2 separate regions of the Homo sapiens genome follow, and region 1 is linked to region 2. Evidence: fine-mapped expression QTL. A gene starts in region 2. The other region holds a variant in brackets. All regions are shown on one strand. Distances are from middle to middle.

Region 1 (4,174 bases), 40 kb after region 2:
AAAAAAAATTAAAGGCCTAAATGTAGAAGCTAAAACTGTAAAACTCTTAGAATAAAACAAGGGGAAAGCTTTATGACACTGGATTTAGCATCAGTGGTTTCCTGGCTACAACACCAAAAGCACAAACAACAAGAAAAATAGACAAATCAATCAAAAGTAAAAACTGTTGTGTATCGAAGGACATTATCAACAGAGGGCAGCCCACAGAATGAGAGAAAATGTTTGTAAATCATATATCTGATAAGGGTTTAATATTCAGACTATATAAGCAACTCAACAACAACAACAAACCCTCAACTACAAAAAACAAAAAACTCCTAAACTCAATGACAAAAAAATAAACAACCCAATTTTTGTTTTTTTGGTTTTTTTCTTTTTTGAGACTGAGTTTCACTCTTGTCACTGGGGCTGGAGTGCAGTGGCACAGTCTCGGCTCACTGCAACCTCTGCCTCCCAGGTTCAAGCAATTCTCGAGCCTCAGCCTCCCGAGTAGCTGGGATTACAGGCACGTGCCACCATGCCCAGCTAATTTTCATATTTTTAGTAGAGACGGAGTTTCACCATGTTGGTCAGGATGGTTTCGATCTCTTGACCTCGTGATTCCCCCACCCCAGCCTCCCAAAGTGCTGGGATTACAGGCGTCTGCCACCATGCCCTGCTAATTTTTGTAATTTTAGTAGAGACGGGGTTTCACCATGTTGGCCAGGCTGGTCTTGAACTCCTGACCTCAGGTGATCTGCCCACCTCGGCCTCCTAAAATGCTGGGATTACAGGCAGGAGCCACCACGCACAACCCAAACAACCCAATTTTAAAATGGGCAAAGGACATGAATAAACAGTTCTCCAAAGAATACATACAAATTGCTAATAAGCACCAAAGATGCTGAATGTCAGTAATCACTGGGGAAAGGGCAAATCGAAACCACAATAAGATACCACCTTGAGCCCATTAGGATGATAGGGTACATTTAGAGAAATATATTTGGTCTTTGTCCCTGGTTCCTAGCACAGAGCCGCTAAAGCCCTTAGAATTTCCTGAGTGATAGTAGTGTCTTTTGTTATTCATAATGAAGCACCTATTGATCACATCTGAGTTTATGCTACTGAGGTGACTTAGGGTGAACCCTTAGATAGCTTCAGGATGGGGTTGGTCACCGGAAAGACCAGGTAAGTAGGAGGTTGGATCCTTCAGCCTCACCCCTAGACCTGTGAGAAGGGGAGGGGACTAGAAATCAAGCTCTAAAAAAGCTCTTGAACAAGCAGGTTGGAAGAGTTTCCAAGTTGTGGGAATGTGGTGCACCTGCAGCCCCCACCTCATACCTTGCCCTGCGCGTCTCTTCCCTCCAGCTGTTCTATGTACTTGAGCTCAGTCAATGAACACAAATTCCCTACAGTATTGGTCTCTGACACCAAAGAACAACATTTTGACAAATTGAGTTTTAAAGATTTAATTGACTCTTATTAGCAATGTATGAAACAGGCAGCCTCCAGACTACAAAACAGAAGGCACTCGGCTGGGTGTTGCAGAACAATCGGCTTTGGTAAGGCAGCTCAAGCAGGAATGAGGAAATCGTGTGGTGAGAAAAGTGCATTGGTTATCATTGGGTGACTTTCTGAGGCGGAGAATAGGGTCTGGAGGCAGGGAACCTAAGGCCGATTTCACGCTGACTTCCTAGAACTAAATCAAAAGGAAAACCCCAACTTTTCACACCTAAGTAACAAAAAAACCGGAGGTAGCCGGGCATGGTGGCTCACGCCTGTAATCCCAGCACTTTGGGAGGTCGAGGTGGGCGGATCACCTGAGGTCAGGAGTTTCAGCCCAGCCTGGCCAACGTGGTGAAACCCCGTCTCCACTAAAAATACAAAAATTAGTCTGGCGTGTTGGCGGGCGCCTGTAACCCCAGCTACTCGGGAGACTGAGGCAGGAGAATCGCTTGAACCCGGGCGGCGTAGGTTGCAGTGAGCGGAGATCGCGCCGTTGCACTGTAGCCTGAGCGACAAGAGTGAAACTCCGTCTCAAAAAAGAAAAAACAAACAAAAAACCGGAGGCTACTCCCTTTGCAAACCCCCACCCTTTTCTGCCTGGCAGATGGAAAATTGAAAGTGTCTCTGAGGGCAGCCAATCAGACGTTTACATAGGATTGTAACTTTGTAACTTCACTTCAGCCTCTGATTGGTCGCTTCCCACAACCAATCAGCTTGATTGTGGGCCAAGTCTTCCTTTGCATAGAACTGTAACTTTGTAACTTCACTTTGCAAACAGAGGCTTGCATCGGGTGTAACCTTTGTAACTTCACCTCAGCCTCTGGTTGCAGGTCACTACTTCATTTACATAGAGTGTACACCAGGTAACCAATGGGAAACCTCTAGAAGGTATTTAAACCCCAGAAAATTCTGTAAAAAGAGCCCCTATGCTCCAGCGGCTCCCACCCTGTGGAGCGTACTTTCA[T/C]TTTCGATAAATCTCTCCTTTTGTTGCTTCCTTCTTTCCTTGCTTTGTTTGTGCGTTTTGTTCAATTCTTTGCTCAAAACGCCAACAACCTGGACCCCTCCACATTTCCTTGTATGAGTTTAAGCGGAGGAAACCTCTCTTATGCAGGCTCAAGTGGACTGGCCCCCTTTTGACTGGTTGCTGGTAGTCTCCTATTTTTTCAGGAAAACTGGCCCTGGTGGGGGATTTTCCTGTTTTGTTTAAGTTTCAGTTTGATTACGTGGCACTTAGCACAAGTGATTCCATTTTGGTCTGGCCTACTGGGGCCTAGTGCAGGAGCTCAGCCCAATTCAATGGCCTCCCATAAATCTTATTTAACACTTAGCACCACTGTGCACATGTGGAAGGTAAAACTCAGAGACGCTAAGTATCTGAGTGTGTCACAGAGCTAGTAAAAGGCAGAGCTGGGATCAGATACATTGATTCATTCACTCAAAAACCTTTTTTTATCGAGTGCATACTATGTATCAGCCTCTGGGTACTGAGCATGGGAGCAGAATCAGACACCCCGAACTGACAGGGCTCACAGACGAGAAGGGGAGACAGTTCTCAATCATAGAAATCACTTGTTCTCACAAACGGTGACACGTGCTATGAAGAAAAAGGCCTGAGAACTAGGAGGGCATCTAGAGGCGCCCTTTCTGGTCTAGGCGTCCTACAGGCAGCTGGAGGAAGACGTCTGAGCTGACATCAGATTCATGGGTAGGAGTCTACCAGGCCAGGGGGGTGAGTGCCTTCCAGTGCACAGAAAAGCTGTCCGGTTCCCGAAAGTTTCTTTTTCTTTCTCTCTCTGTGTGTGTGTGTGTGTGTGTGTGTGTGTGTGTGTGTGTGTGTTTGGGGGTCGGGGCAGGGTCTTGCTCTGTTGCCCAGGCTGGAGTAAAGTGAAACAATCGGCTTCACTGCAGCCTCGACTCGGGCACAAGCAATCCTCCTGTTTCGGCCTCCAGAGTAGCTGGGGCCACAGGAGCGCCACCGCGCCCCGCCTGAAGGTTTCTTCTCTCCATACTGGTAAAATCCTGAGCTGTGTTTGAGCCTCTCACAGGAGGAAGGTAACGTGACCTCCTCCAGCTCACTCACGTGACACTCGGTCCTCCTTGCGAACGGCTCTCTAAGAAGCTGTGGGAGTGACGCGCAGCCCCATTCCTCCACCCTTCTTGTGCCGGGTGTCCCCCACAGAAAAAAATGCGCCGGCCCCAGAGCTGCCGCCGACTGTTAAGGAAGGCCCTTTGCACCCAAGAATGGAAGCGGTGTGGGTCGGGGTGAGGGCCCCGAAAAGGGTGGTGAAGGCCCTGGCAGAGAGAACACTCAACGTTCTCTGCCAGCTGCTTCCCTGCTGGTCCCGGGAGCCCCAGCCTCCCTTCCACAGGGGCGGGGGAGGACACGGGGCGGGGGCGACACGCGTGGGGGTGGGGCGGACGTGGGCGGAGACACATGGGGGAGGGGCAGGCACCTGAAAGGAGGCGACACCGGGAGGAGGGGCACCCCGCGGGGAAGGGGTGGGGAGGGAAGCGAAGGGGCACCCCGCGGGGGAGGCGAGGGAAGGGGGCATCCCGCAGGGAAGGGGGTGGGGGAAGGGCACCCCCCGCGCGGGTCTGCCCTGGCTGGAGCATCCCGGGGTCCTCAGACTGCAGGAGCTGGGAGACCGAGACCAGCTCAGCTGCTCTTCCTCACTTCTGTGCCAAAAGG
Region 2 (4,000 bases):
ATATTATATTTCCATTTTTATCCTCAGAATACCAATAATAGCATTTGGCAAACAGACTACAAATATTAACAATTCCTAGTGCTTTTGTGATCAACAAAAAAAAAAAAACTATTCCTGTGCTTCTCAGAGAAAATGTTTTAAATGAGAAAAATATTCAAGTATTTTAAGACCTTCAAAGGTAGCATTTTTCAATTAAAAATTAAAAACTAAGTCTCCGTAACTACTACCTACTCCATACATACACCGCAAAGTTCCCAAAGGGAGAAGATATTTTAGATGCGCCTTTAGGAGCTTAGTTTTTCCTCCTTGGGATAACTTTAAATTCAGATCTCAGCAGAACAAACGCATTTTTCAGGGCAAGCCAACTGCTAATCCGAGTAGATCTAAACGCTAACGAAGGCAGCCGACGGAAGCTGCTCCATGAAGACACGAAAACTATCAGACTTGCATTTTGCCACATTCCTGGAATAAACTTATTACTCATAAAGGTGATTTTGAAGCCATTTCAGCTTGTGGAATGATCACCGAAATGCAGTCCACCGATATTTGTTAATATCCCAGGCTGGTCAAACCCCACTCCAGACCTTGGGGGACGGGGAGGGGACCCGCGGCCTCTCTAGGCTGTGCCCAGACAGCAGACAAGGACGCGATGCCGCCCTCGGTCCGCGGCCTTCCGCGGTAGGCGTCCCTCTCAAGCGTGGTAAAACCACCCCGAAGGGAACAGAAAACGTTAAAATCTTCGTTGGGCGCCAGCAGGCAGGTTAGGCCTCGCCCTGGCATCTCGTCTCCAGGACCAGATGGAGCGAGTGACCCGCGGGGACACCTTCCCGGTCACCTCGAGCGCAATAAAACAAGTTCTTTTTTTAAAAATAAGCATCCGTGTGCCTGCCGGCTAAATTAAGTGTGTCTGAAGAGAAGCAGGATGGCGGCCGCTATTTATAACCTCCCGCCCCGCCCGGGCGCCACTCCTCGACAGCACCCACGCTGTGCCCGGCGGCGCTTCCGCGGGGACTTCCTGCTCGGTGGTCCCCGCCCCGCCCCGCGCCAGCCGTCCGGAACCCGCGTCCCCAGGCGGCTGCAGGCGGGCGAGACCTAGGTGCCCGACGCCCACGCGCCTCCGACCGTGGGAGCGCCCGGAGAGCAGCTACCTCGCCGGGCCTGCGAAGCCCAGGACAGGCGCGAGCGGGGCGCGGGCTGGCGCATCTGCGTGCGGTGGGCGCCCCGCAAGCGGGTCGGGCCCGCCCCAACAGCCCTCGGCTCTCCTCTCACGTCCCGCGCGGGCATGCCCCGGAGTGCGTAGGCGGCAGGGAAGAGCCCCCGCGTCCACATCCCCAGGGCCCGCGCAGGTGCGGGATGGGGATGCAGGCGCTAGGCATGGACGTGCGCGCGGGGTAGGGTGTGGAATGCGGACGCGGGCGAGTGCTGTGGCTGCGCGTACAGGGTAGGGATGCGGGGGCGGTAGGTGTGCGTGCTGGGAAGCGCGCGGGGCGGGGCTGTTCGGAGGCGGCGGGGGCGTGGCGCGGCGTCCTGAGCTGCAGCTTGGGGGCGTCGGGCGCAGCGCACACTGGGGCTGCAGGGATGGCGATCAGGGCGGGGAGGTCGGGCCCTGGCGCGGGGCGCACGCGTGAAGCAGCACCGCACGTGTGAAAGGAATTCTTTTCAGAGCGGCCGGGAGCCCTGCTCCGGAGGAACGCACCCGGGTCGCCGCCGCGGCAGAGCGGGGTAAGGCGGGCCGGGCGCCCCGGAGGCCAGGCACAGGGGCCGAGGGCAGCGCGGGGCGGGGACGGGCGGGTCGGCGGCGCAGCGGAGCTGCCGGGCGAGCCCAGCGGGCTGAGACTGCCGAGCTGGGAAGCCGAGCCCCGGCACGTGTGCGGCTCCCAGCCCCCTAGGATTCTTTCAGGATTCTTCAAAAAGTTGTGGGGAGCTCGGGAAATTTGTGAGAAACTTTTGGAATAATTGATCTTCCTCCTTTGCTCCTGGAGGTCTGGAGAGCAGCGCCTCGTTTGGCTTCCCTTGATGGACAGTCCAAGGCCGAGTTTAAGTTGTTTTCCTGGGGTTGTTTTCCCCCTCGGGTGGAGGAAGCCGGGCTGTCCCGGACCGTCAGGCTGTAGGGCTCCTAGCGATGCTGAAATGCTTGAAAACTCTAAGCAGATGTCACCGCGCCAGCTAACGGCGCGCACCCAGCCGTCCACGGGCATTCAGCATCGCCGTGCTCCTAAAAGTCCTGTTGGGATTGTTTAGAAACAAGGTTGGCTCGCCTACATTTTTTTCAGAAACTTTTTAAAACTTTTTATTTTTAAGAAACACTGTAGCTATTAATGCCACGACCAGATTTCTCGACCTGTATGTTTGTTATGATGTGTTCAACTATAAGGAATTTGCAGAGGAGTGGAAAAGCACTGTCCGAGCCCCTTCCCGTAGGAGACTTGAGAAAACAAACGGCAGTGACGCGGCTGCATTTGCTTTGTTGCCGACTCCACACTAGTGAGCAAAATTCATCCTACCATGTAGAGTTCTCGGTTCGTGAATATGTGACTGCAACTTTAGAACTCCAGTTTTTATTTTATCAAGATGTCTCCAAAACATGCCATTTAAAAATGATTCTATACAAACAGCTGACAAGCGAATTATGGGTCTCATCACCCAGGAATTAAAAACCATGGTGATTTATGATGTGCGCATCACTTCACTGGCGGTCCATCCATGTGCAAGACAAACATTAAAAGATTAAAGAGGAAAAAAGAGGGATTTATTTTCCGAATATCAGTGTGTTCAAAGTAAACATCAGCTAGTTTGGCACAGATTCCACCTGCTCAGCAGTTTGGTTCATATCGAGATAAGCATCTCATAAGGGCAATGCATGTGTTGCTGTAGTGGAAAGTAATTCACGAAACGGTACTACTCTAACAAATCAGACAGTACTGTTTCTTAACCAGGAACCGTTAACTGGCTGAAAGCTGTCTTAAAAGAATGGCGGGTAACAAAATTTTTTGCCAATAAGGAAAATATTTTTGACCCAGTTTTCTTGAATGTTACTCACATTTTAACTTATTATATTCATTTCTCTTAGCTAAAATAACGTGTACACACTACATTTGAAACGAAAAATTACGTTTATCGCAGCCTTTTTTTTTTTTTTTTTTTTTTTTTTTTTTGAGATGGAGTCTCGCTCTGTCACCCAGGCTGGAGTGCAGTGGTGCGATCTCGGCTCACTGCAACCTCCCGAGTAGCTGGGACTACAGGCGTCTACCACCATGCCTTCTTCCTCCCTCCGCTGGATGGTAGCTATTCCCAGTACTATGTAGTACTTACATTTTGATCTGTTTTTTGCCACTCTGCCTCTCTCATAGATTGCAAATGAATCTCCTGAGAGTGAGGACTGGATCTTAATTGTTTTGCTGTCCTCAGTGTGTGGCACAGTGCCACACACAATAGGTAATAATGTTTTATAATAATAATAAATGTTTACTGAATTGAGGAGGGAAAAAATCCAATATATGTGACAACAGCATATATGTCTCTAAAAAACAGTATGTTTCTGCAATTTCTGTATAATGCTTAAAGGCAATAAAAATAATAAAGTTTCATCTTAATTTTCATTCCTACAGTGGTGGAAAATTCCTCATGATAACTAGGTTAGTACTCTACTGCTTGCTTTTTTTCTTTTTCTTTTTCTTTTTTTTTTTTTTTTTTTTTTTTGAGAGTTTTGCTCTTGTCCAGGCTGGAGTGCAATGGCACAGTGGCACAGTCTTGGCTCATTGCGACTTCTGCCTCCCAGTTAAAGCGATTCTCCTGCCTCAGCCTCCCTTGTAGCTGGGATTACAGGCATGCGCCACCACGCCTGGCTAATTTTTGTATTTTTAGTAGAGACACAGTTTCACCATGTTGGACAGGCTGGTCTCAAACTCCTGACCTCAGGTGATCCACCCACCTCAGCCTCCCAAAGTGCTGGAATTACAGGCGTGAGCCACCGCGCCCAGCCTACTGCTTGCTTTTTTAA

The links. PIP is the estimated chance that this variant, and not a neighbour inherited with it, causes the effect.
Region 1: its variant is fine-mapped to the expression of GJA3 in whole blood (TOPMed, PIP above 0.99). The same link has a PIP of 0.9 or more in T cells, blood mononuclear cells, esophagus mucosa and fibroblasts.

Annotation. Positions count from the first base shown.
Region 1 is chr13:20,118,721-20,122,894 of GRCh38, reverse strand. It overlaps LOC105370101 (a long non-coding RNA gene), which reads left to right and starts at 3,106. Exons shown (of 3, transcript XR_941719.3): 1 at 3,106-3,190. The variant T/C (reference allele first, on the strand shown) is at 2,450.
Region 2 is chr13:20,158,612-20,162,611 of GRCh38, reverse strand. It overlaps GJA3 (gap junction protein alpha 3), which reads left to right and starts at 1,560. Exons shown (of 2, transcript NM_021954.4): 1 at 1,560-1,722. RefSeq lists silencers at 910-1,269, 1,500-1,579, 1,740-1,829.